Homo sapiens: one gene and its partners. The protein of the gene in region 2 interacts with the protein of the main gene of each other region in a pairwise test. Each region holds a gene or a part of one and is shown on either strand. Other genes may lie near its edges. The genes, in order: SLC18A1, SLC35B4, RHBDL2 and CREB3L1.

Region 1 (7,926 bases), on a different chromosome or scaffold from region 2:
GTGTGTGTGTGTGTTTCCCTGGGAGCAATGATTCAGTATTCACTAATTCAGTGTTTGCAGCGACTTTATAGAGCATAACTATAACTACAGAACTATGAATAATGAGAAGTGATTGTATTGGATTAACAACTTGTCTCAGAAAGATCCTTTTTTAAAAACATATGTTTTACCCAAGAGGAGAAACCTTTTAGTGCCCATTTATACAAGGGTGTAACTTAATGTAATGATTAGGAGAGTATCAACTAAAAAAAGCAGGATTCTGAGGGAAAGAACCACAAGGAAGGCAAGGTCTTGATACTAAATCAGATATCCAAATAAAATATGCTGTTTTTATAGAGCAGAGTCCAGAAAGGCACCCCTGTGAGAAGATCTCGCTGCCTCAGAGGCACTTGGAGTCATTAGCACCTTGAGAAGACAGTGTGGGGAGAAAGAAAAGCACAGCCAGTTCTGGCTCCGGGCCATCCTCTTCTCCAGTCAGACCCTCTCTGGACCTCCTGCTCTTTGAACCTCCTGAGTCTTTTAGCTGTGTTTGACAAGTGTCAGACTCCATTTTCTGCAGGGCTTTTTTCCAGTCCCCAACAACCTCTGTGTGTTTTTGAGCATAAAAAGGAAAATTCTCAGATGGATTCACTGTTGAACTCAAGCAGGGTGTACACTGCCTGCTGGGGCCCACAGCAAATTAACCCTCAGCACAAAGACCCACAAACGTACCCACCACAGTAAACAGCATGTTGTCCAGGAGCAAAGCGACGAATACCACCACCAGCACCAGCTGCCGGGACGCTCTCCCCTCCTTCAGCAACCGCTGGGGAGCATCCAGAATGGTCCGGAGCATGGTGATGGCCGGACTGGGGCAGTCTTCCCCTGCGGGCTCTTAGGGAAGGTCCTGTGACAGCTACAGGTCTCCTGCAGCCTTTATGGAAGAGGGGAGGGAGTCTGCCCAGACGAAGGAAACTCACTATTAAAACGAAAAGTGCAAAGGGTTGCAAGTAGTAGGATGATATTTGGAAACATCTCCATGTCTGTATCACTGTTCACTTCTTATAAATCTCAATAACTCTACCTGGTTCCCAGAATGCCTTCCTGGTAAGCATCGCTTACTAGCTATTTATGTCTGGATTTATATCTAGCCATTAATTTCCCTTGAATTTAATGGCTAGGTATAAATCCAGATAAAAATAGATGCTCTACAGATCACTTAACCCTGTGTTTTTCAAACATCCGACATTTATTTGCCTATCACCTTGATGGTTTATGTCATATCTAAGGACTACCTGTACTATCATTTACTTCATCTTTTTCCTCTAGATCCACTCTTTTAAAATATTGAGATACTGCCAGGTATGGTGGGATGTGCCTGGAGTCTCAGTTACTTGGGAGGCTGAGGTGGGAGGATATCTTGAGCCCAGGAGTTTGAGTCCAGCCTGGACTACATAGCAAGACCCCTAACTCTCAAAAAATTTTTAAAACCAACATAGATATTGATATCATGTTTCAAAAAGTTATTTTATGTGGCATGCAAAAAAAGTATGACCTTTGTTCTAGGTGCTACCCCAAAATATTTCATGTGGCACAGTGTCACTTGGGCTGCCCACTGAGAAACACTGATGTAGACCAACCTTCATCTCATAGACAAGAAATCCGAGCCTCTGAAGGTTAGGAGATTTGTTTGGGGTTGCACAGTTAGTGTCAAACTGGGATGAAATCCCACGCTTTTCAACTTGCCAGCTTATCCTCTACCATGTTCCCTTGCTCTGTGGTTCTAGAAGCACGCTCATTCTTTTGTTTGAGCTACAAACCCCTGATCAGAAAGATGCCTTCATCTGTGAAAATAAAATATTGACTTTCATGATTAGTTCTCTATTCAGGATTTCATATCATTAGTCAGCATTAAGTCACAGTACCTTGTCAAACTTCAAGTAATAAGAGTTTCTGGGGAGAATTTCATTTTCTTTGACGTGGCTTCTGTTGTGGTATCAACAATATCACTCATTTAAATTTTAAAATAGATTACCATCATGAAATCTATCAGGCCCTAAAAATTGTATACTCTTTGACTTAGTAACTCTACTACAAGGAACCCATCCTACAAAAGAAAAAAGGTCAGAGATGCAGCCAAAGACTTATACTCAAAATGATCAATTGCAGAATTATTTTTCTTAGTGAAAAAAGTCAAACATGTTAATGGTGGATTATTAAGCGGCTCTTAAAAATTATATTTTCAAATAATTTTAATGATACAGAAAATACTATTACTATAACGTTAAGTAAAAAAGGGAAATTAAACTGTGTTTTCAACTTTATCTCAATTGTCTAAATATAAATATATGGGCACATTTTTGAGAGAGTAGAGAGATACTCAAATGCCAGTTATTTATAATCAATGACTTCAGTTATCTTCTGTGTATTTCTAAATATTCAATAATGAGCTACTTTTGTAATTAAAGAAGTAAATAATTTTAAATGATTATCACTGAAATTCAATAGTCAGCCTCAGGTGTTGGGAGTACCCCAAACACTGAGGTACTCTGTTCTAAGCCCAGGGCTGGAAGAACCCTCTCACTACTACATATTAACGTGACCAAGGTCCTAAGTGAACCAAATTCTCAGTTAAGTTTTAACCAGTAAATGCATGCAATTACTTAAGATCCTTCATTTCTCTATATAAAGGAGGTATTTCTGAATACAAATTGACTTAGGATATGTATGGATAAGAATAAAAGACAAGCCATGGAAAATTAAAAAACATAGTGAGTGAAGTAAGTACTACAAAGAGAGAGAAACACACACACCCAAATCCCAAAACAAAAACAAACAAAACCAGGAATTTGCCAACAAATCAATAGTAAACTTTACTTAACAGTCAAAATCCTCTGACAGAGACACAAATCACAAGGAAAGATTAAATTTGTCCGGAGAGAGAAAAATCTTACCTTGGAGCCCATGTTGGTGTGAGGCACTCAGTGAGGTATTGGCAGCTGTTAGCAAGACAGCAGGGACACTGTTCTCTGAACGTGGATGTGCTGTTGGATTTATTGCCTCCTGTTATCTGAGGATTCTGTGTATGTGTGTGTGTGTGTGCCTTTGTCCACAAAGATTTAATTGCAACCTCCAACAGGGTTCATTCAGACCCTTAGCTCCCTGCGTCAAAGGCAGGAAGGCAGGGCTGGAGAGGATAAAGAGAGGGCAGATATTAGCCTAAGCAAAGAGGCACTGGACTGTACTGTTTTGCATCTGTGCTTATCTATCATCGAACTCTTTAACTCTTGCCTGGGTCTGAATACAAATTGGAAGCCAAGATGGAACCAGTGTGCAGTTCCTGTTCCTTGCTACTTAGTCAAAGTGGCTCCATGTACCCCAATTAGCTTCCTGGAAAGAAACAATGTATGTTGTTCTCAAGCCATAAAAACCCAACATCTGTGGCCTCTGTAAAGGCTTAGATTATGCACTGTGTCTTCACATCTCAATACTGGCTCAGTGCCTGATACATGGTAGCATCCAATAAATATTTCTTGCATGGATGACTGGATGGTTAACTACAGGAGAAAGTGCAGTTCCTTGTGGGATCTTGAGAGGCTCTAATGATCTATATTATTCTGACATTAAACCATTGGTGGCTCAAAGAACATAAGCAATTTATGAAAAAGCAAATACACTTTACGAGCAAGAGCAGTGCAGAGATTTCCTATTTGTGGAACTGGTGGGCCCCTCCTAATTGTGGGAATTAACTAGGGAACTTTCGATTTAACGCTAAAAAAAAAGAAAATAGTTTTTTAATTTTATTTTTTTTATTTTTGAGACAGAGTCTCGCTATGTCACCCAGGCTAGAGTGCAGTGGCATGATCTTGGCTCACTGCAACCTCCACCACCTGGGTTCAAGCAATCCTCTAATCTCAACCTCCTGAGTAGCTGGGATTACAGGTGCATGCCACCATGCTCAGCTAATTTTTGTATTTTCAGTAGAGACAGGGTTTCACCATGTTGGCCAGGCTGGTCTCGAAGTCCTGACCTCAAGTGATCCTCCTGCCTTGGCCTCTCAAAGTGCTGGAATTACAGACGCGAGCCACAGCGCGCGGCCTAGATGGAAACAGTTTTAAAATGTAAACCTAGAGCGAGAAATAGGGATAGGAAACAAAGACATCAGCAGAATGTATTCATCGCTATAGTTTGCTGCTGTAACAAATTACTACAATCTGGTGGCTTAAAACAACACGTATTTAGTATCTTGCAGTTCTGGAGGTCAGAAGTCCAAAATACATCACACCGGGTTAAAATGAATGTGTCGGCAGGGCTGCATTCCTTCTGGAGATTCTGGGGGATGGTTGTTTCCTTGCCTTTTCCAGCTTCCAGAGATCTCCTGCATTTCTTGGCTCCTAGCCACTTTTACCCTCAAAGCTAGCAGCAATGCATATTCAACTCTCCCTCTGACTCTGAGCCTTCTGCCTCCCTCTTTCACTTGTAAGGACTCACGGGATGACCCTGGGCCCACCCAGATATTCCAAGATCACCTCCCCATCTCAAGATCCTTAATCATATCTGCAAAGTCCCTTTTACCATAGGGGACTACCAAGGCAACATACTCACAGGTTCCAGGATTAGGAGGTGGACATCTCTGGGGTGCCACTGTCCACTCCCTACAGGGAGCATGGCACACTGCCCCCCACTTACATGCAGGGCCTGTGGCCTGAGCCTCTAGGGAATGAGGGGGTTAGGGCCAAAAGATGGAGGAACTGTATTAATAAAGATATTTGCAAGACTCTGGGCATAAGGCAGTATCCTTTTTGGAGTCCAGGTGACAATTCTGCCACCATGCCCTCCACCCTAAGTACAGTGTTAGAACTCTGAGGGTTGACAGCCTCCGGCATAGTGTACCTGTGTCCAATAGAGGGCGCTAGAGGGAGAGGGCTTGGGTAGAGCAGCCTCACAGGAATGTTCCGAGACAGCACCTAACTGGGGATGCCCCCCAAAAATTGGGAAATCATGATTTTGGGAAATTGAGGGCCTGGGAAAGCAGGTATAGACTAAGAATCATCACATGTTGGGCAATAATAAGAATAACAGCAACAATAACAGTAGCTATCATTTATGGATTACGTACTATTTGGGCATGTTTCTAATACATACTCATATATTATAGGGATAATACATATTAGATCAAATAGATATATTTTTTCAGTTTACTGTAACCATGCTAGTATTCACAGGCTGGCCAAGTCTGGGGTCTCCTCACAAATGCCCATCACTATTAATAATCAAATTGTTGTCCATTAAAAATGAATGAGCACTCAACTTCCTCCCTTTAATCATAGAATAAAAAAAAAAACTGTGAGTACTGTGGAATGGAAATTCACATACACTGTTAGTAGCTAGGGAAATACCATTCTTTTAGAAAGCAATGCGGCTTTCTATCTTTTATCTTTTAAGTTATAAAATGTATGTTGCTTTTGACCCAGTAATTTCACTTCCTTGGAATCTATCTAAAAAGGTATGCTAAAATATGGGGGAAGGGAGGGAAATCATAGGTACAAAATTTTTGTCATAGGATTTAGAGAAAAACTACAAACATCTCAAATGTCCAACTGTAGAAATTATTTAAGTGCATGAGCTTGAAGGACTGTCATGTGGCCCTTAAAACAGATGTAAAAAAAGGTTATGATGAAGACTATATATCAAACTGGAAAAAACTGTATATATAAAAATAAATATATAATTTATATTTATAGATTACATATATAACCTGTAATTTATATTTATAGATTACGTATATAACATGTAATTTATATTTATAGATTACATATACAACATGTAATTTATATTCTATAATATGTTATACATAATATATTTAATTTATATTATATGTATATACACACAGATATTATGACAGAAAGTAAAAAGGTAGAATATAAAACTTTTTGTAAATTGGGGCTGGGCGTGGTGGCTCATGCCTGTAATCCCACCACTTTGGGAGGCTGAGGCAGGTGGATTACTTGAGGTCAGGAGTTCAAGACCCGCCTGGCCAACATGACAAAATCTTGTCTCTACTAAAAATACAAAAGTTAGCCAGGCGTGGTGCTGCACACCTGTAGTCCCAACTACTTGAGGGGCTGAGGCACAAGAATCACTTGAACACGGAGGCAGACGTTGCAGTAAGCCAAGATCGCTCCACTGCACTCCAGCCTATGCGATAGAGTGAGACTCTGTCTCAAAAAAAAACCAACAAAAAAACCTTTATGTAAATTCACGGTAGCATTATGCACAATAGCTAAAAGGTGAAAGCAACCTACATGTCCCTCAATGGATGAATAAAGGAAATTATGACCCATGCTATAACACGGATGAATCTTGAGGACATTATGCTAAGTGAAATAAGCCAGTCACCACAGGACAAATACTATGTAATTCCATTTATATGATGTAAGTATAACAGTCAATTTCATAGAAATAGAAAATATGATGGTGGTTTCCAGGGTCTGAGGGAAGAGGGAAATGGGAAGTGATTGTTTAATAGGTGTAGAGTTTCAGTTTTGCAAGATGAAAACTTCTGGAGATTGGTCAGTTGCACAATAAGGTGGGTATAGTTAACACGACTGAACCATACACTTAAAAATGGTTAAAATGGTAAATTTTATGTCATGTATATTTTGCCACAATTAAAAACATAAAAACAACACTTTATGTACATTGTGATTATGTAAGTGGTTAGGCCCAATGGCAAAGTTGTGGAAGATTCTTGATTTATTATTTAAATAATAGTGAACAAAACTTAAAAATGAAGCATTGCCAGTAAAAAGTAACAGCTCAGTCTATACTAGTGGACTCCGAGCCCTTGCAAAGAACTAATAATTTCTAGCCAGAGCATCCTGTTGAGAACTCTCTGAGACTGAAATTGAAGTTTGAGGCTCTTTGATAGTGGCTCTGTTATCTTTCTAGTTAAAGTGGTTGGCATACAACATCCTCAGACGGACAGCTTTTTCTCCGGGCCAAATAATATCTATTACCCAATTACATGTACCCTGGGCTGTGGCTGACATGGCCTGGCAGAGGAGACGGCCCTGTGACTCAGAGCTGGAGGGTGCTTTTGTTTCTCATTGCTTCCTGTTTCCTGTGCTGTTCAAACATTTTAACAATCAGTTCCAACTTCTTCCATTCAGCATATGTCATTATCCCAGCCTCAGATTGGAGGCTGACTTTGGTTCAGAAGTCACAGGCTTCTGAAAACAAAGCCAAAGAGGAATCAGGGCTGATACTTTACGGCCATGATCTACAGGGCACTGTGGACCCTGTAGGAGTGGATATGTGTCCATAAAGATAGGGAACTGCGTGTCTGTAAACATGCAAGGGAAGTGCTGGTTTCAGATCCAAGGGAATAGGAGGCTCTAAAAAAGTAAAATCAACATCAGCTGGAACCCCATTGAACAGTTCTATTGTAGGGACAGCGGTAGCAAACTCAGCAACAAATAAGTGATAGGAAAATTCAGTTAGGAAAATTCAGGCCCTACCCCCAACCAACCACCAAAACTGGCATCCCTTCACAACATCAAAAATATTTGGAAAATAAAACAATAAAAAATAACAATACAGGCTGGGTGTGGTGGCTGACATCTATAATCCCAGTGCTTTGGGAGGCCAAAGCAGGAGGACTGCTTGAGCCCAGGAGGTCGAGGCTACAGTGAGCCATGATCGCGCCACTGCACTCCTGGGTGACAGAGTGAGACCCATGTCTCAAAACAACAACAACAACAAAAATCCAATCAACCAACCAACAAACAAACAAAAAAAAACCAATGCAACCATAAAAAATAACACAAGTAAAAAACAAATAAAGTACGATAACTACTTCTATAGCATTTACCTTGTATCAGGTATTAAGAGTAATCCAGAGATGACTTAAAGTATACAAGAGGATGCACATAGGTTATGTGCAAA
Region 2 (7,026 bases):
ATTTTAAGTAACAAAAACCCGAGGCAGCTTAAATGACTTCTCCAAGCGACCTGGTGACTCTAGGACATTTATCTCCACTGCTGTTGCTCAAATCCATCAGAGAATAGCTCTGGACAGTGGAATAAACATACCACACCATGGAATGAGCCCAGGAGACCTGCAGAGCCACGTCTCAGTTTAAGAACACAATGTGTGCACCACACACACACACATACATACACACACACACACACAGTCTTTGTCTATAGGCAAACAGAGAAGTGGCCGGTGAGTTCAGCTGCTTACAGAGGAGCATGTACTGGTATGTAAGGTTCCAGCTAAGTAAAGAAAAGGGATGTGAAAGTGCAGCCACTTCCGTGCCCTTTGATCACACACAGACTACACAAGAGCACACAGAAGCTACGCATATTACAGCAACAGCGTTCCTCCTATTCAAGATTGTCCAGTGAAAGGAAAACTGGACCTCTGAAATGATTAGCAAAGAGAGGCATGTTTCCACACACAATAAAGCACATCCAACCATCCTCAATACCCATCGAGAATGCTAAGATACCTCATAGGACAATAACAACTTTCAATTGTCGTTGAGGTTTGACCTGATTTACACATCACACACTATATATCTCCATCTATGCATTCCCTTGATGGGTCGTGACTCTTAACAGAGTCATCGGGCAGAGGGGAATCTCCTGGTGGTGAAGCCTTATCCTCCCACTTGAGACCCACCCTTCTGCCCTGTGAGTGCCCGGCTGGGCCAACAGGGACAGCCATGGCTCTTGCGGTGCTGAGCAGGGCCATCCTGCCGTCACCACTGTGGCCTAGGCAATGGGCTTCAGGGGTGTCCAGTCCATAACAACCTTTCTTTTTTTTTTTTTTTTTTGAGATAGAGTCTCACTCTGTCACCCAGGCGGGAGTGCAGTAGCACGACCTCAGCTCACTGCAACCTTCATCTCCCGGGTTCAAGTGATTCTCCTGCCTCAGCCTCCCAAGTAGCTGGGATTACAGGCATGCGCCATCACACCCAGCTAATTTTCGTATTTTTAGTAGAGATGGGGTTTCACCATGTTGGCCAGATTGGTCTTGAACTCCTGACCTCAAGTGATACACCCACCTCAGCCTCCCAAAGGGCTGGGATTACAGGTGTGAGCCACCGTGCCCGGCACAACCTTTCTTTGTTATGAACACTGTGTCTGCTGTGAGATATGCTGCAGGGCCGCCCTAATCACAGAAAGCAATGGATAGAAGCATCTGACTTTTGCATAGAAAAAAAAAAAAGCAAAATGTGGGAAAGAGGAGTCCCACTAGTCTTGCTGCACTGTCACTGGGAATCAGCTCAGGGGAACATCTCTTTCCTTCCCAAAACGCTGGAGGAAGTCCAGCCCTGCTGTTACTGGTGTCTCGGTTTACTTGGCCACTCCTGGTGATAGTGGTGCCTGCAGCGTCTGACTGACTGTGAGGTGCTGCTGAAGAAGGAAAAGGTGATGGGAGACAAAAGGGATAAGGTCACAGGATGACAATGACTGCTGTAGCAGAGATGCATTACAACAGCAAGAGAAGGGACAATCTTTTCCAAGACCATGGATAGTAAGCCTTTTGTTCAGGAGACTCAGAATTCAGAAAACAAGAATAATACTGAATATGTCGGTAAACAAAACAGAAATAAATGAATGGGCTGTTCAATAGTCCAGAACTGTTCTTTTTTCTATTTTAGGGCTGAGGGGTTTCTATTTAGTCTACATGTGTCAGTCTGAGCAACGTGAGAAGTCCCCTCCTGAAGATTTCCTTTTGCACGGCTGGCTCAGCACTGCGGGTAGCTCGGCATTAACAAAAGCGAAACGGTGGTCAGACCTTCACAGGGTCCCACCCTCACGACGACACTGGTCTACGTACTCCAGACAGGCCTCAGTTCTTCTTGCTGTCCTTCTGAGGCTCACTTTTTGTGGTCCCTAGGTTGTTCCACACCTCTGTGTACATTAAGGTCCCAATGAAGACAAACAAGGTGCCCAGCCAGTGCCACAGGGTGAAGGGGTTCTGGAAGTACAAGATGGAAAAGATGAGGCTCACAAATTTGCGTAGGGTCACGACGAGCGTGACGGTGAGGGAGGCGCATTCTGTGGTGAGGATAAACACACCCCGGATGCACACGTACCTGGAGGAGTGGAGTCAAGGTAGTTTTCTGTAGACTGTACTTGGGGGATCAGTGAGAGAACCTTCTGGCATGGTCCCTGGTTTAACTTCTCATATTCTAAGAAAACATGAAGGTCCGCTACGGCAGCTCTGAGGCTCCTCCTGGGGAGAACCTGCAGAACAACTCCTGTCCTGCCATTCCATTTATGGGTACCAATTTGAAACCGCCAAAAAACCCCCAATTATTCTTATGTTGGAGTCTTCCTATGGTTACAATGACAGGCACCTCCAAGATAATGACAGAGGGTGACGCTCTCGGTAAGGGTGATCCCATTCACCTTTATTTATCTTGCCTCCAGCCCTTCTATCCCCTCCTCCAGAAAGGGACTCTGGCAAATCTAGGAGCTGACTTCAGAGGAATGAGGTCAATCTCGATTCGTTTCACTATTTCAAAGACATAATTATTTTTATAATGAAAGTAAGGTCATTCGAAATAACCATTTTAAAAAACGAAAACTTGATTACTTTGAAATTTCTTTTTTTTTTTGAGACAGGGTCTTGTTCTGTTACTCAAGCTAGAGTGCAGTGGAGTGATCAAGCTCACTGCAGCCTCGATCTCCTGGGCTTGAGCGATCCTCCCACCTCAGCCTCCTAAGTAGCTGGTAATTTGAAATTTCTTTCAGGACTTTGCAGCAGCTTGTGATCACTGGAAATATCTTAGGACACCAAAAAATCACAGGTACAAATCACAGATGATTTATGCTATACAGTAGTTCTTTGTTTGTTTTTTGAGATGGAGTCTCACTCTGTTGTCCAGGCTGGAGTGCAATGGCATGATCTCAGCTCACTGCAACCTCCACCTCTTGGGTTCAAGCGATTCTCCTGCCTCAGCCTATGGAGTAGCTGGGATTATAGGCACCCATCATCATGCCTGGCTTACTTTTGTATTTTTGTAGAGAGGGGGTTTCACCATGTTGGCCAGGCTGGTCTCAAACTCCTGACCTCAAGTGATCTGCCCGCCTCGGCCTCCTAAAGTGCTGGGATTACAGGCGTGAGCCACCACACCCGCCACTATCAATCAATGGACTCCTACACTTCCACTCAGAGCACTTCCTCCTGCTGCCCTGTGCCTTACTGACCTACTACACCACTAGCATCTCTTCTGCCCTCTACAAGGAGTTCCCTGAATTGGTCTCTGTCTCCAGCTTACCGCAGAATAAATCCAGCGAAAATCATATTCAAGTCAACACACTGTTAGAAGAAAAGAATGACCATTCCTGTGCCAAAAGAACCTGATGATGACATAAGGGTGACGGCACAGTCCAAAGGATACTGAGTGATGATGTTCATGAGGAGGTAGAACCACATGATGGGCAGGGTCACTCCGATGACGGGAATTTCATATAACTCTGTAGAGGTTACAAGAGGATATAGCCATATTGCTTTTTCACAGCTGAATTTTTCATCTTTTGAACAGGGTAATACAGACTGAACATAATAGGAACAGCAACATTGTCTTCCTTGCAAATAGAATTGGATCACGCATCACTTTACTTGCCTTGACTCCAGGCTATAGCAGCCACTAAAGTCATTAAATTGGTTTCTTAAAACAAATAATAGTTTTAATTTTTAAGGAAGTGTTTTACCATTTGCCTGAATAGTACCTCACTTTACAAAGAAAGACTGTGAAGCACAGAAAAGTTGAAAATGATAAAATGATATAGACAGCCTTAACAACTCAACACAAGAGGAAAGGCGGCTAGCAACTACTGTTTGGAAGTATGTTCAATCACACTAGTAATTACAGAATTCCAAAGTAAATAAGACTGTACCATTTTATAGCTACAAAATTAGCAATTCAAAACTTATTAATTTATTTTTGAGACAGAGTCTCACTCTGTCATCCAGGCTGGAGTGCAGTGGCATGATCTCAGCTTACTGCAACCTCTGCCTCCCAGGTTCAAGTGGTTCTTGTGCCTCAGCCTCCCAAGTAGCTGGGACTACAGGCACACACCACCACACCTGGCTCATTTTTGTATTTTTAGTAGAGACGGGGTTTCGCCATGTTGGCCAGGCTGGTCTTGAACTCCTGACTTCAAGTGATTCGCCTGCCTTGGCCTCCCAAAATGCTGGGACTACAGGCTTGAGCCACTGCGCCTAGCCAATTCAAAATGTATAAATAATATCTTAATCTGGCAAGTTGGTAATGGAACTGGCAGCCACAGGTTGGTGGCAGTATAACTTGGCGTCATTCTTTAAAAAAATCAATTTCATAATCCTTATTAAGGGTCTATAAAAGTATTCCTACCCATCCTTCAGAATTAATCCTAGTTTAATTCAAAGGAAGAAAAAGGTTCTGCACTCATTAAAGTACTATACATAATAAAGAATAACTCTGAATCAAAATCAAATGCCCAATGATGGTGCAATGGCTACATAAACAAAGGCACTTTCATTAGAGGAGGCATTGTACATTTGATAAAAACAAAAATCATAGAGATTTTATAGCCACATAAAAAAAACTCAGAAAAAAAGTAAAAAACAAATATAAAATTATATCCACACAAGGATTACAGCTATGTAAGAATCTCTGTAAACAGACATGGTCTAGAAGAAAATCAATAAAAATAAAATTGGCAGATGTCCAGGTTGATGGAACTGTGAATAACTTTAAATATATTCTTACATTAGTTTTAGGCCAGGAGTAGTGGCTCACGCCTGTAATCCTAGCACTTTGGGAGGCCAAGGCAGGAGGATCCCTTGGGCCCAGGAGCTCGAGACCAATCTACCATTCTGGGCAACAGGGAGGTCCTGTCTCTATTAAAAGACACATACACACACACACTCTCACTCTTATGTTAGCTTTATATAATGACACTTGCACAGTAAATTTGTGGGAGGAAATAAGATGAAAGAGAATACAGACATAGAAATCCTCAATGGCTCAGTTTTTTTGTATTACTAAATTTTTTTCAGGTTTTGAATTATACAGCATAATTTAAGAAATTCTGATACAATGATGCTGAGATCTGGTAAGAAATATTAATTTTCTTTCACGAATAAAATGTCTCATATATACATACACACGCATACACATAAAGACTAATTTTTGAAACTTAGTTCTGGATCAGTGGGCAATGCCAATAATCTGGTATTCTATTATCTTTGATATCCTTAGCAAGTATTGAAATGAAAAGGAAGTTAACAAACGTGATTACTTTTTAATAACTTCAGAGATACACTGAATCTCTGAAGGAAAGAGACAATGAATATCACTTAAAATATTTTGACAGATATTTAGCTCTCTTGGAAAATTCACGGATCTCAGAAACTTAATCTCAAGGAAAGCAAGAGAAGGAAAATGTATCTTTAACTTGGAAATGATTCTGGAGAAGTTGAAGGCAGATTCTGTAAAACATTTTATCATAAATACCTAGCCCTGTGATTTTTAGAAGCAGCATTCTAACAACTAAATCAATCACATGGAATTTGACAACATTTTTATTTCAATAGCCCTTTGCTACGTGGGACTTCTCAGAGATCTTAAAAACTGTTGTGTTAATATGAAGAAATGATTATTTGAGTAATTCAGAGCCTTACAAACTCTTACACACTACCTTCACATTTTTTGGGGGATGGGGCAAATGGGAGAGGCAACACTATAAATGCAGAGAATAGTCATAACTTCACAACTCATGCTCAGATAGCAAACAAATGTTTACTGAGCACCTACTGTCATTCTACAAAATGCACTTAAGCATTTGAGGTGTGTGCAACATAAAGCCTTGATTTTAAAAACGTTTATTTGTTCCTTGTGTGTTCAATGTGTCTATATTATACTCTGTTAGTAGATAATCAGATCATACAAGTGATCCCTTTCAAGTTAACTGACAATCTATAGCTAATTTATTAACTGGCCAGTTTAAAAAGTAACAGCTAACTTACACTAGACGCTTGAAACTAATTTTGCTTATTCATCTGCTGCCTGTCTCATCTGTAACTAGGAGAAAAACCTTGTCATCATTGAGCTCCCCTCTTGCTCTGCTCCATGGCAGCTTGGGCTGGATCTGTGAGCAGCTCTGCCTTTCATGGCAGAGAAGGATAAACAGCAGTTGAGAGAGCTGGACGGCTGCCCAACTTCGCAGGGCTCCAGTCTCTGCAGTGTGCTGTAAGTATTCATTTGCATTCTCAAAACATCAAACATTTCACATTCAAATGCAAACACACAAATTCCAAAGCAAAATGGAAAACTCGAAGATATTCTTTTACTTCATTTGTAAATAATTGAGAAACCCCTGTAAAAGCTTTTGCTGCTGCAATGACTGGAAAGTGGAATGGAGACATTTTCGAAAGGAACACATGATTTGAATAGGATTATGAAAAAGGCCGAGGTCAAGTCAAGAGTAAAACTGAGACTCTGCCTCAGAAACTGTCAGGTAATTCTACTGTCTAACCCCAAACTCACCAGACTTATTGAATAGAACTGCATGGTCATAAATATCAGAAGCCAAGAAGACGAAACCCGGAAGTGGAAGGGCGTGCTATGGAAAGAAACAGGTCAGATAAATGTAAGTGCAAAAACATTATAGAATAATTAGAGTAGCTTTACAATGATTAAAAGTCGTACAGGTTGTTTGACAGCAATACAAAGAAAAGCAAGTTAGACTTAAGTTAAATGTATACAGTGCTTCTTGACCACTTCACCTTGTATGGCAGGATATTAACCCCCAAATTATGGTTCTTGCCCTTATAGGGTCTGAGGGCCATCACAGACAAAGCAAACAATGGAGCCAGCATCCTTTCCTCAACAACAGGGAATGGAGAAATTTAAACATATAGTCTTTCTGCACAAAAGGATTTGCTAAATATGCAGACACAATTTAATTTGCTTTGATTGAT
Region 3 (7,026 bases), on a different chromosome or scaffold from region 2:
TTTAGATTTAAAAGTGGGTCAGCACCATCAGCATGGTTAGGGCTATTCAGTTCCCAGAAGCCAAGGATGGTAGACTAAAGACGGAGCATATAATTTGCCATTCCTCTCACTGAGAGATATGGTTTGGGTTTGTTTCTCCTCTCCTTAAGTCTGGGCCAGCCCTGTGACTGGTTTTGACCAATACTACGTGGCAGAAGCTATGCTGGATACTTTGCAGGGCCGGGCCTTAACAGCTATGTGGTCCCCACTTTTGCTCCTTTGGGAATGCTTCCTCTTTGAAGCCTAACACCATATAACCTAACACTACCTGGAGGCCACCATTCTATGAGAAAGCCCAAGGTGCCCACATGGAAAGAGAGGCCATGTAGAAGAGCACAAAAGTAGGAGTCTCTCTGAGCCTGGTCTGGCTCAGGAGGTTGCCTGATTTAAAAAAAAAAAAAGAAAAAGTCATGTGAAAATGAAATAAAGAAAAGCACCAAGGTGCCAGACCTATGAATGGAACCTTCTTGACCTACCAGCCCAGCTCATCCACCAGTTGAATACAGCTGTGAATGACCCTAGCTGATGACTACATGGAGAAGAACTGCTCAGCTGAACCCTGCCCAAATCCCTGACTTGCATAATTATGAAGAAATAAAATGGCTCTTGGTTTTTCTGTTATTTGTTTGTTTTGAGACAAGGTCTGACTCTGTCGCCCAGGCTGGAGTGCAGTGGTACGAACTCAGCTCACTGTAAGCTCCACCTCCCCAGTTCAAGGGACTCTTGTGCCTCAGCCTCCCAAGTAGCTGGGACTACAGGTGAGCGCCACCATGCCCAACTAATTTTCGCATTTTTTGTAGAGATGGGGTTTTGCCATGTTGCCGAAGCTGGTCTTGAACTCCTGAGCTCACGCGATCCACCCACCTTGGCCTCCTGAAGTGCTGGAATTACAGGCGTGAGCCACCACACCTATTCTTGTTTTGAGTCACTAAATTTTGGGGTGATCTGTTACACAGTAATAGCTACCAGCATGCCTCATCAGAACCAGAAGACAGAATGACATCTCACACCATTCTGCCTTTCTTTCCATTCACATTGTTCATCTTTGTATTCTTCCATTGAGTAGATTACTGATGTCTGACCCGAAATTACCCTCCCAAATTAGTCTTCACTCTGTTTCCACTCCTGCCTCCCTCCAACAATGAAGCAAAACAAAACCGTAAATCAGAGTGTATTAACTCTCGGCTTAAAAATCCTTCAATGGTTTCCCATTGTCTTTGGGATAGATATAGGATCCTAATGGCAAATGATAAGATCCTATATGACCTAGCTCCTACCTTCTTTGTGGAATTCACTTTCTACTACTTTCTCCCAACGACTCAGTGCTGCAGCCACAGGGACGTCTTTCTGTTCCTGGAATACACCAAATCTTCTCCTGTCTCAAGGTCTTTGTACTTGCTGTTCCTTCTACCTAGCCCTCTCCCTTCCCTACAACTCATACACACAAGGTTGGTCTTGATCCTTCATAACCTGTAGCACGTCCCTAGGAAGTCTCCCCTGCCCATGCCTTCCCGCACCCCTATATGCTCTACTACATTTCCCCACTTATATTCTCCCAGCACTTATCATTATCTAAAAATAGTTAGTTTATTTATTGTCTGTCTCTTTCTGCTAGAATATGACCTCCACAAAAGTGGAAAATATTTCTCAGCAAGTATTTGCTGAATTAACAATCCCATGAATGGAGAAGGAAGGAAAAGGGAAGTATCATGGAAAGAGCTCTGACATTGCAGGAGTCAGAAAATCCTGGTCCTTGCTCCAATTCTGCCCCTGCTTACCTACGGATAAGCTACTTCCCCTCACCTAACCAGAAACTTCATCCCCACCAGCAAACACATGGCCGGCGATGTTTATCAGTGTCATACCTCACAGGTCTTCACAATTTTTTTTTTTTTTTTTTTTGAGACAGAGTCTCGCTCTGTTGCCCAGGCTGGAGTGCAGTGGTACAATCTTGGCTCACTGCAACATCTGCCTTCTAGGTTCAAGCAATTCTCCTGCCTTAGCCTCCCAAGTAGCTGGGATTACAAGTGCCCACCACTATGCCCAGCTAATTTTTGTATTTTTAGTAGAGATGGGCTTTCACTTGTAGGCTGGGCTGGTCTCAAAATCCTGACCTCAAATGATCCACCCCCTTTGGCCTCCCAAAGAGCTGGGATTACAGGAGTTATCCACCGTGCTGTGTCCACAAGTCTTCATAAATCCCCATAAAAATTTTGAAGAATGTCAGGTGTGGTGGCTGACGCATATAATCCCAGCACTTTGGGAAACTGAGGTGGGTGGATCATTTGAGGCCAGGAGTTCAAGACCAGCCTGCCAATATGGCAAAACCCCATCTCTATGAAAAATGCAAAAAATTAGCCAGGCGTTATGGCGGGTGCCTGTAATCCCAGCTACTCAGGGGGCTGAGGCAAGAGAATCGCTTGAACTTAAGAGGCAGAGGTTGCAGTGAGTCGAGATTGTGCCACTGCACTCCAGCCTGGATGACAGAGCAAGACTGTCTCAAAAATAAATAAATAAATAAAAATAAAATGGCCCGGCAGGGTGGCTCACACTTGTAATCCCAGCACTTTGGGAGGACGAAGCCAGAAGATCGTGAGGTCAGGAGTTCGAGACCAGCCTGGCCAACATAGTGAAACCCCGTCTCTACTAAAAATACAAAAAAATTAGCCAGGAGGGGTGATGGGCACCTGTAATCCCAGCTACTCGGAGGTGGAGGTAGGAGAATCGCTTGAACCCGGGAGGTGGAGGTTGCAGTGAGCAATGCAGAGATCGCGCCACTGCATTCCAGCCTGAGTGACAGAGCAAGACTGTCTCAAAAAAAAAAAAAAAATGGCTGGGCGCGGTGGCTCACACTTATAATCCCAGCATTTTGGGGGGCCGAGGCGGGCAGATCACGAGGTCAAGAGTTTGAGACCAGCCTGGCCAACACAGTCAAACCCCGTCTCTACTAAAAATACAAAAAAATTAGCTGGGTGTGGTGGCAGGCACCTGTAATCCCAGCTATTTGAGAGACTGAGGCAGGAGAATCACTTGAACCCAGGAGACAGAAGTTGCAGTGAGCTGAGATCATGCCACTGCACTCCAGCCTGGGTGACAAAGCTAGGCTCAGTCGCAAAAAAAAAAAAAATTTTTTTAAAGAAGCTCTGTTCTGTCTCATACATTTTTAAGTTAATAACTACAATTATTTTTTACAAGTTAAAATCGGCTCCAAGATCAAATTTTTTGTCATAGTCTTTGTTAGAGACATGTTTTAAATACATTTTCATCCAAACCTTAGAGCTACAGATTTCACTTGTTCAGTTTATGGAAAATGTCTACCACATAATCCAGTTGGCAAAGCCTGTCCTCACTGTCAAACCAATTAGCCAAATCAAAGAGATTTTCTGTCCATAAGAAAATCTACCTTTATTTTTAAAAGGTTCCATAAATGCATTAATTTGCATCCCCATGACAACTGGCTCATGTCTCAATTCTAATTTTATAACACATAAATAAAGAGCTAAAGCTCTTAAGTTTAATATAGCATAATGGCTAAAACACAAATTCTAGAGGAATTCAAAGGTGTCTGAATTCAAATTCTGATTTCACCACTTGACACCTCTGTGACCTTGGGCAACTTATTAAACCTCTTTGTGCCTTGGGAGCATCATCTGTAAAAGGAGGGTGGTAAATATCTACTTTATAGATTCGGTATCAGTATTGAATTAGTTTATTATCTGTAAAATTCTTAGAAGAGTGTCTGGCACATAATTAGCATTGAGCAAATTTTTCGTTTTGTTTTGTTTTGAGACAGGGTCTCACTCTGTTACCCAGGCTGGAGTATAGTGGCATGATCTCAGCTCACTGCAACCTCTGCCTCCCGGGTTCAAGCTATCCTTCCACCTTAGCCTCCCAAGTAGCTGGGACTACAGGTGTGTACCACCACACCTGGCTAACTTTTGTATTTTTTTGTAGAGACAGGGTTTAGCCATGTCGCCCATGCTGGTCTCGAACTCCTGAGCTCAAGCGATCTGCCCACCTTGGCCCCCTGAAGTATTGAGATGACAGGTATGAGCCACCACACCCGGCCCTATTTGGGTGTTTTTTGAGACAGGGTCTTGCTTTGTTGCCCAGGCTGGAGTGCAGTGATGCAAACCCAACTCACTGAAGCCTCGACCTCTTGGGCTCAAGATATCCTCCCACCTCAGCCTCCCAAATAGCTAGGACCACAGGCACATGCCACCACGCCCAGCAAATCTTGTAGAGACGAGGTCTTGTCACATTACCCAGGCTGGATTCAAACTCCTGGGCTCAAGTGATCCTCTCACTTCGACCTTCCTAAGTGCTGGGATTGGAGGAATGAGCCACTGTGCCCAGCCTAAACAAATATTTTTATTTCTTTATTTTTATTTTATGTTTTATTTTCTGGCTTTACTTAATCAGCTTCCTCAGGTTGAATAAACAAGTATTCTTTTTTGTTTGTTGGTTTTTGGGGGTTTTTTTGAGATGGAGTCTCACTCTGTTGCCCAGGCTGGAATGCAGTGGCATGACCTTGGCTCACTCCAACCTCTGTCTCCCAGGTTCAAGCAATTCTCCTGCCTCAGCCTCCTGAGTAGCTGGGATTACAGCAGGCACATGCAACCATACCCATCTAATTTTTGGTTTTTTGCTTTTTGGGTTTTTTTTTTTTTTTCAAGATGGAGTTTTGCTCTTGTCACCCAGTTGGAGTGCAATGGCGCGATCTCAGCTCACTGCAACCTCCGCCTCCTAGGTTCAAGCAATTCTCCTGCCTCAGCCTCCCGAATAGCCGGGATTACAGATGCTGGCCACCACCCCCAGCTAATTTTTGCATTTTTAGTAGAGATGGGGTTTCACCATGTTGGCCAGGCTGGTCTGGAACTCCTGACCTCAGGTGATCCACCCACCTCAGCCTCCCAAAGTGCTGGGATTACAAGTGTGAGCCACCGTGCCCAGCAATTTTTGTATTTTTAGTAGAGACGAGGTTTCACCATGTTGGCCAGGCTGGTCTTGAACTCCTGACCTCAAGTCATCCACCCAACTCGGCCTCCCAAAGTGCTGGGATTACAGGTGTGAGCCACCATGCCTGGCCGAGTATTCTCGAGTGTTCTTTTTTTTTTTTTTGAGACAGAGTCTCACCCTGTCACCCAGGCTGGAGTGCAGTGGCACAGTCTCGGCTCACTGCATGCTCCGCCTCCCGGGTTCACACCATTCTCCTGCCTCAGCCTCCCAAGTAGCTGAGACTACAGGCACCCGCCACCACACCCAGCTAATTTTTTGTATTTTTAGTAGAGACAGGGTTTCACCATATTAGCCAGGATGTCTCAATCTCCTGACCTTGTGATCCACCCGCCTCGGCCTCTCAAAGTGCTGGGATTACAGGCGTGAGCCACCGCGCCTGGCCCCTGGCCGAGTATTCTTAAATAAAACAAATACTACGAGTCTGTAGTAGAGGCACAGCACCCTTTAGTTTCTCCTGCCTAATCTCTCTTTACTTGCTATCTCTCAGGAACACAGCATTCTCTAACTGTCCTTTTGAACAATGGACCTTGTTCAATGAATTTGGGATGGACAGAGGTGTAACTTTCTTATAAAGCCAAAGAAGAGAAACAATGAAAACAGAGTTGAAAAGGAGAACTTAAAAGAATCCAGACAAGCAGATGACTTTTAGGCAAGAGTCCCTGCAGAAGCTGAGAATCTGGAAATGGACTCTTTTAATGTTATCTGTGCCCCCGCATCCCCAGTTCCAGGACCACTGGCTAGTTTGACACACCCTCACTGGGCACACTCAGAGCTAGATATAATTCCTGGAAACCCTTCTACACCTCCATCTCTAGCTCTCTGGCATAAGAAAGCACAAGGTATTGCAAGTAGTATCCTTGAACTTATTCCAGATTATACAAAAGGAAACTATTTATAAATTTCCAAACTTTTATTAGGAGGAACAGATTCACTGTGACCCAGTATACAGCTGAGGGCAAAGTACCAGTCATCAGGAACAGGCCAACTCAAGAGATCCTTCATGAACAAACCATGCTGAAGTCTTAAAAAGGAAGACTAATTTTCATAGATAGGTGGGGACCCATCAGGCCTGAAAACCTTGGCGTCTTCATATCCTAGGCCCCTACACATCAGCCTCACTTCTGAAATGCAAATCAGGTAGTGTCATTCTCATTGCTAATTTTTTTTTTTTTGAGACAGTGTCTCACTCTGTTGCCCAGGCTGGAGTGCAGCGGCACAATCTTGACTCACTACAACCTCTGCCTCCTGGGTTCAAGCGATTCTCCTCCCTCAACCTCCAGAGTGGCTGGGACTACAGGTGCACGCCACCATGCCCAGCTAATTTTTTTTTTTTAGTAGAGGTGGGGTTTCACCATATTGGTCAGGCTGGTCTCGAACTCCTGACCTTGTGATCCGCCCGCCTCGGCCTCCCAAAGTGCTGGGATTAGAGGCGTGAGCCACCGCGCCCAGCCAAAATCTTTTCAATGGGTATCCAATGTCTTTGGTTTAAAGCCTAGATTCCTTAACGAGGCACAGAAAGACCTCATGACCTGAACCCTGCCTATTTATCCACCTTCATTTCTTTCCATTTCCCCAAATATACCCTATGCCCCAGCCACACTGAGCCCCTAGCAGTTCCAGCTCCCACTCTCCATGAGGTCTTTTCATGAGCTCCTCCCTCTGCTAGAACATCCTCCCACACTCCCCATTTGTTGTCCCAGGGAAGTATTAACACCCCCTTTAAGACTCTGTTCCTTACTATCACATTTGGGATTAAGTTAAAGAAAAGAAAAGAAAATTTTTTAATTAAAGAAAAACAAAACTAAAAGACTCTGTCCTTTACAACTCCTCTGCAAAGCCTTACTGAGCATCTACCACATGCTTAGCATTGTGTTAGGCACCGAGGATGCATGGTAGAATTAAATGCCCTTCTTAGTTCCATCAGCAACCTCTGTTTGCATCTAGAGCATCAATGTCTTCTTTGTATTA
Region 4 (6,274 bases), on a different chromosome or scaffold from region 2:
TACTAAAAATACAAAAATTAGCCGGCATGGTGGCGCACGCCTGTAGTCTCAGCTAGTCAGGAGGCTAAGGCAGGAGAATCACTTGAACCTCGGAGGCGGAGGTTGCAGTGAGTCGCAAACGCACCACTGCACTCCAGCCTGGGTGAAAGAGCGAGACTCTGTCTCAAAACAAAACAAAACAAAAAACCTAACAAAAACAATAGCTACCATTTACTAGACACTCACTACATACCAGGCACTGTGCCAAACAGCTCCTTCTTATCAGCTCAGGGTGCTGGGGGTGCCAGGGAGGGAAGGTCAGTGAAACTGTGGCAGGTGTCGGTTAAGCAAAAGAAGGCTGGCATCTGTGCAGCTGGGGGCAGGCCTTCCCTCCTCCAACCCCCTTGGCCAGGAGCATCACAGGGCAGGCCTGAGCTTCCACAAGGTGACCCAGCCAGTCACCATGAGGCAGGCCCCAGGCGCCAGGCCACTCTGCAGAGGAGCCACGCAGGAGGTGACCTTTCCTATCTTGACTGAAACGGGCACCTGGCGTGGAGGCCAAGTCTGGAGCCAGCCCCCTAGGAGAGCTCCAGGAGGCAGAGATGCCTGCGGGGTCAAAGCCTGCCAGCTGACTGCTGTGCCCTCCTCAGGACCCTGCTCCAGCAGCTGCAGAAACTCCAGACTCTGGTCACCAACAAGATCTCCAGACCTTACAAGATGGCCGCCACCCAGACTGGGACCTGCCTCATGGTAGGTGTGGCTCCCTCCACCACAGACCCACAGGAGGAGAGTTCTTCCCAAGGCTGGCTTTTTCCAGGGTTGGGCAGAGCTTTAAGGATCGGTAACATCGTGGGCAGCGTCCCAGGGTACACCATCCTGGCGCCTGGTGGGCTGGTTCTAGCAGACTCCAGACTCCTTCTCCAAGCCCATGGTGCCTTCTGCCTCACACCGGTCCCCGACTGGTTAACACAGTGTAGATGTGTAGGTGACTCCAGTGGCCCCAGCTAGGGGACAGCTGGGCAGGTTCCTTGAGGAGGCGGCTTCCACAGGCCTTGTGCAGGGAAGGGCTTGGGGAGACTCAGGGAAGAACGGACATGGTTCTTTCTGGAACAGATGGCAGTGAAAAGGCTGAGGAAACCCCTGGAAACCCGGAAGGCTCCCAGGGCGTGTTTCAGACCTCTTCCAGTCCCTCTTCTATCTTCTTCTGGAAATGGCCAGTCTCTTGCCGCCTGGCTCAGCATGCCCCGGCCCTCCGAGACCCTCGAGCTGTCAGGCAGCAGAACCAGGCTATGGGCAGGGGTAGTGTGGGCTCCGTGGCTCTCAGCACCTCCCGCTAGCCAGGCTCCTCAGAATCCTGCTGAGAACGTGATGTGGCGGTGTGTCCCCCTCCCTCGTCCCAGCCCCAAGCCCCACCTGCACCTATTCCTTCCTTTCCTGATTCCTCTACCCCGTAAGGGGACTCCACATTGGCCACTTCCCTCTTACTTCTAGCACTGCCTGTGGCGACCCCCCTACAATGGGCTGGGATGGCCTGGGCTGTCCCTGCCTTCCCCAGAGAGGATAGGAGACCCCACATGTAGGAGGGAGTGGTCGACTGGAGCAGCTGCTTCCTTGGGAAAACGCTAAGACTTTTGTGCCTGTTGGTTTGGGAGAGGAGGAGTGGGGTGGTCAGGGCCGTGGCCCCTCCTTACCCCAGATCTGATGCCACTCTCTCTTTGCTACCAGGTGGCAGCCTTGTGCTTTGTTCTGGTGCTGGGCTCCCTCGTGCCCTGCCTTCCCGAGTTCTCCTCCGGCTCCCAGACTGTGAAGGAAGACCCCCTGGCCGCAGACGGCGTCTACACGGCCAGCCAGAGTGAGTGCCCGCCTGTCATGCCAGCTCCCTGGGCTGAGGCTGCCCTGCCCCAGCCCCAGTGTCCAGGCAGAAGCCAGACATAAGAGAGAAGCCAAGTGTGGGGTCAGCATTATCTCATTTTGCCTCATTTTCCAGATGGGGAAACCGAGGCCCAAAGAGAGTCTATGCTTTGCTCAGTGTTTGTGGTAGAATTGGGACTAAAATACAGAGCTCCCGATGCCCAGCCTAGCTCCCAGAGAGCTCAGGAGTGGCTTGCAGGAGGTGGGTTTAGGGGATAACAGGAATGTTCCAGCCCTGGGCCCCATGCATTATGGTGCCAGTGCTTATGGGGCATCTGCTAGGCACCATCAGTATCTCATGATAGGGACAGCAAGTGAGTTTCAGCTCAAAAGCCATTTCCAATAAGGTGGTGGTAGCTGCCTGAAACACTGAGTTAAGAAGGACCCTGGGCCGGGCGCGGTGGCTCATGCCTGTAATCCCAGCACTTTGGGAGGCCGAGGCGGTGGATCACCTGAGGTCAGGAGTTCGACGCCAGCCTGGCCAGCATGGTGAAACCTCGTCTCTACTAAAAATACAAAACTTATCTGGGCATGGTGGCATGTGCCTGTAGTCCCGGCTACTTGAGAGGGGTGAGACAGGAGAATCACTTGAAACTGGGAGGCAGAAGTTGCAGTGAACCAAGATCACGCCACTGCAGTCCAGCCTGGGTGACAGAGTGAGACTCCATCTCAAAAAAAAAAGAAGGATCCTGAGGCACCATTCAGAATTGACAGGAAGGAGTGTCATGATCCACTGATAATGTCTACCATGGACAGAAGAAGGGTAGCGGTGGTGTGGGTTCAGATATCTACTGTTTCCAAGGGGGATAGTAAACGTACAGTGGTTAGGAGCATGGGGATGTCAAGTCCATCGTAACTGGCACTGCCACCTGCTGTGTGACCAGGGGCATGTGTCTTAAGCTTTCATTTCTTCATCTAGAAAATGGGAGTGGCAATTTTGCACTTACTGAGCCATGGCTGTGAGACAGTGCATGAAATAGCACAGTGTCTGTGCTTATGAAATGAGCACACTCAGTCTCTTAGAGCTCACGGAGGAGAGAATAGCTACATCACAGTAGCTGGCAAAGGGAGAACCAGGGTAGGGCCCAGCAAAGAAGAGTGTGGATTTCAGACGCAGAGAATCCTTCAGGTGGACCCACAGAGGAACTTCCTGGCTGTCCCTCATCACTTACCAGTCAGTCACTTACCAAGAACCACGTGTCTGGCAGGACAGGAGGAGGAAGAGGAAACAGATGGGAGGTCAGAGGAGGGAAGATTAAGGAGTGAGTTTCAAGAAGGAGGGATATAGCAGGGAGGATGAGCTAGACGTTGAGGGCCTTGAGGGGAGGAAGCTGGTGTGGGGAGGGTTAGGGAAAGAGGAAGTAGAGACAGGGAGAGTGAAAGCTCCTCCCCGGACACGTGCAGGCTGAGGAGGAGAGAACGGGGTGGTCACTAAAGGCGGGTGGGCAGCAGCAATGCAAGGTCTGGAGAGCCATGTGTCTGCTTTTCCAAGGCCACAGAAGCCACTGGAGAAAAAGGAGTGGAAAGAGAGCTGGGGTTGATGGATAAAGCCACAGTGAGAGGAGGCAATGAATGAGCCCCTTGGAGGGAAGGCAGTGGGTTTTAGGCCCAGGACCTGGGCTGGGTGGAGAGGAAGACACATCCCAGCAGGCAGATGGCTTTGGAGCAGGCTGGTTTGCAGAGCTGGCGCACTGCGCAGTTCCAGGGACCTCTGTTCACACAGACTATGAGGTCATGGCTGCAGAGCCGGAGGGGCAGCAGATCCCAGGGCCAGGCAGACCTGGGTTCGCATCCTCCCTTCAGGGAGGACAATTTCCCTGAGTGCCTGGAACTTCAGCTGCCTCCTCTGGGAAGCGGGGCTAAAGAAACCTCATTCCCTAGAGTTTCTCTAAGATTTTAACCACTCTACTTAGGTCTATGGGCCTTGGATAATGCCTAACAAATGATGGGTGTCCAACAAATGTTTGTTTTCCTTCTCTGAAGGGCAAATTAGGATCTAGAATGGGGAAGAGACTTATTCCAGGTCTCACAGAAAGTAAGTGGTGGACTGGCCGGGTGCGGTAACTCACTCCGGTAATCTCAGCACTTTGGGAGGCCAAGGTGGGAGGATCACTTGAGGCCCAGGAGTTCAAGATCAGCCTGGCCAACATGGTGAAACCCCGTCTCTACTAAAAATACAAAAAGTAGCCAGGTATGGTGGCACACACCTGTAGTCCCAGCTACTCGGGAGGCTGAGGCAGGAGAGTCGCTTGAGCTCGGGAGGCGGAGATTGCAGGGAGTCAAGATCCTGCCATTGCACTCCAGCCTGGGCGACAGAGCAAGACTCTGTCTCAAAAAAAAAAAAAAGGGAGATAGAGCAAGTAAGTGGTGGAGGTTAGAACACAGCTCCCAGATGCCCAAACTCAGTACCCTCTGCTAGGAAGAGGTGACTTTTCTGAGTATTTCCTGAACACAGTTTCAATCACTTCCCCTGTATTACCTCATTTAAACCTCTCATTTACATGAGGTTGGTCCTAGTATCCCTATTTTACAGAAGAGCACACTGAGGCTCAGAAAGTTTAAAGCAAAGTGTGTGGCTTACCTGAGGTCACACATCCGGGAAGTGTCAGAGCTGGGACTCAGATCCAGGGCCTGCGTCCTTAACCACTAGGCCATGAATGTGGCCAGGATGTTGAGGGAATCTTGGGCACACCGCTCATCCTACACTCCCTCTCCAGTGCCCTCCCGAAGCCTCCTATTCTACGATGACGGGGCAGGCTTATGGGAAGATGGCCGCAGCACCCTGCTGCCCATGGAGCCCCCAGATGGCTGGGAAATCAACCCCGGGGGGCCGGCAGAGCAGCGGCCCCGGGACCACCTGCAGCATGATCACCTGGACAGCACCCACGAGACCACCAAGTACCTGAGTGAGGCCTGGCCTAAAGACGGTGGAAACGGCACCAGCCCCGACTTCTCCCACTCCAAGGAGTGGTTCCACGACAGGTGGGGTGTGTGGCCCCTTTCCCTCCTGAGGTCTCAGGCTCCACCTGCCTCCTGCCCACCCTTGGTCCCCACATTGGCCACACCCTCCCAAGGCCCCATCCCTACTTGGTCTAGATCCAGCTTGCAGAGGGTAAGAGGGTTCCTGCTGGACAGTCATCGCTGGCCTCTCTTCTCTCTCCAGGGATCTGGGCCCCAACACCACCATCAAACTCTCCTAGGCCATGCCAAGACCCAGGACATAGGACGGACCCCTGGTACCCAGAAGAGGAGTTCTTGCTCACTAACCCGGATCCGCCTCGTGCCCCTGCCTCCTGGAGCTTCCCATTCCAGGAGAAAAGGCTCCACTTCCCAGCCCTTCCTTGCCCCTGACATTTGGACTCTTCCCTTGGGCCGACCACTCTGTTCTCATTCTCCTTCCCACCAACATCCATCCGTCCTTCTCAGACAAACCACTCACTGGGTACCCCACCTCCTCTCTCATATGCCCAACACGACCACTGCCTCCCTGCCCCCACACCTGCACCCAAACAGACACATCAACGCACCCCACTCACAGACACCCCTTACCCCACCCCCACTGTACAGAGACCAAGAACAGAAATTGTTTGTAAATAATGAACCTTATTTTTTATTATTGCCAATCCCCTAAGATATTGTATTTTACAAATCTCCCTCTTCCCTTCGCCCCTCCCTTGTTTTATATTTTATGAAGTTAGTGCGGGCTTTGCTGCTCCCTGGCCCAGGAAAGAGGGACTACCTGACCCTCACCTGGCACCCCCCTGCTGCTGCCCAAGCCGCTGGGCCTTTTTAATTGCCAAACTGCTCTCTTCATCAGCTCAGCACATGCTTTAAGAAAGCAAAACCAAAAAAAAAAAAAAAAAGATGCAGCATCAACTCCTGACTTTGTGCCTTTCTTCATTGGAGGGGAGGGAAAGTAGAACCAAAGGGCAGGGGAACAACAAGGGTAGGTTGATTTTATGTTCTGGCAGGGGGTGTGGGGGTATAGGAGTATGAGAAGGCATTTTTTTTTTTTTGTAGAGGTAGGGTCTCGCTATGTTGCCCAGGCTGGTCTCAGACTCCTGGGCTCAGTCTGCCCACCATGGCCTCCCACAGTGCTGGGATTACAGGCGTGAGCCACCATGCCCAGCCTGTTCACTTTTTATTTTCCAATATTTTGTTGACTGATTTGTTATTTCCTCTTCTGTCTTTGGGCTTTATTTATAGCTTTTATATGTGTATGCTTTTATTTGAGGATTAGGAAGATAGTTTAGATAAATGTTTTTTATCTGCCTATTTAAGGAGAACCCCATGTATGTATGTATGTGTACATGAATGAATGACAAGATCTCGCTCTATTGCCCAAGTTGGAGTCCAGTGGTGCAATCATAACTCACTGTGGTTT

What was found.
Region 1: the proteins of SLC35B4 (region 2) and SLC18A1 interact in binary tests that used the Homo sapiens proteins (3 or more experiments, as listed by UniProt).
Region 3: the proteins of SLC35B4 (region 2) and RHBDL2 interact in binary tests that used the Homo sapiens proteins (3 or more experiments, as listed by UniProt).
Region 4: the proteins of SLC35B4 (region 2) and CREB3L1 interact in binary tests that used the Homo sapiens proteins (3 or more experiments, as listed by UniProt).

The regions. Positions count from the first base shown.
Region 1 is NC_000008.11:20,180,130-20,188,055, forward strand, and holds the start of SLC18A1 (chromaffin granule amine transporter), read right to left. Parts: upstream 3,008-7,926; 5' UTR 2,934-3,007; intron 1,824-2,933; exon of another isoform or gene 1,620-1,823; intron 959-1,619; 5' UTR 836-958; coding exon 712-835; intron 1-711.
Region 2 is NC_000007.14:134,292,931-134,299,956, forward strand, and holds part of SLC35B4 (nucleotide sugar transporter SLC35B4), read right to left. Parts: intron 6,669-7,026; coding exon 6,593-6,668; intron 3,537-6,592; coding exon 3,461-3,536; coding exon of another isoform or gene 3,382-3,460; exon of another isoform or gene 2,150-3,381; coding exon 1,903-2,149; 3' UTR 1-1,902. UniProt on the Homo sapiens protein: Antiporter that transports nucleotide sugars across the endoplasmic reticulum (ER) membrane in exchange for another nucleotide sugar.
Region 3 is NC_000001.11:38,931,806-38,938,831, forward strand, and holds part of RHBDL2 (rhomboid-related protein 2), read right to left. Parts: intron 1-7,026. UniProt on the Homo sapiens protein: Involved in regulated intramembrane proteolysis and the subsequent release of functional polypeptides from their membrane anchors. Known substrate: EFNB3.
Region 4 is NC_000011.10:46,315,657-46,321,930, forward strand, and holds the end of CREB3L1 (cyclic AMP-responsive element-binding protein 3-like protein 1), read left to right. Parts: exon of another isoform or gene 1-629; coding exon 630-729; intron 730-1,704; coding exon 1,705-1,831; intron 1,832-4,607; coding exon 4,608-4,872; intron 4,873-5,053; coding exon 5,054-5,090; coding exon of another isoform or gene 5,091-5,241; 3' UTR 5,242-5,753; downstream 5,754-6,274.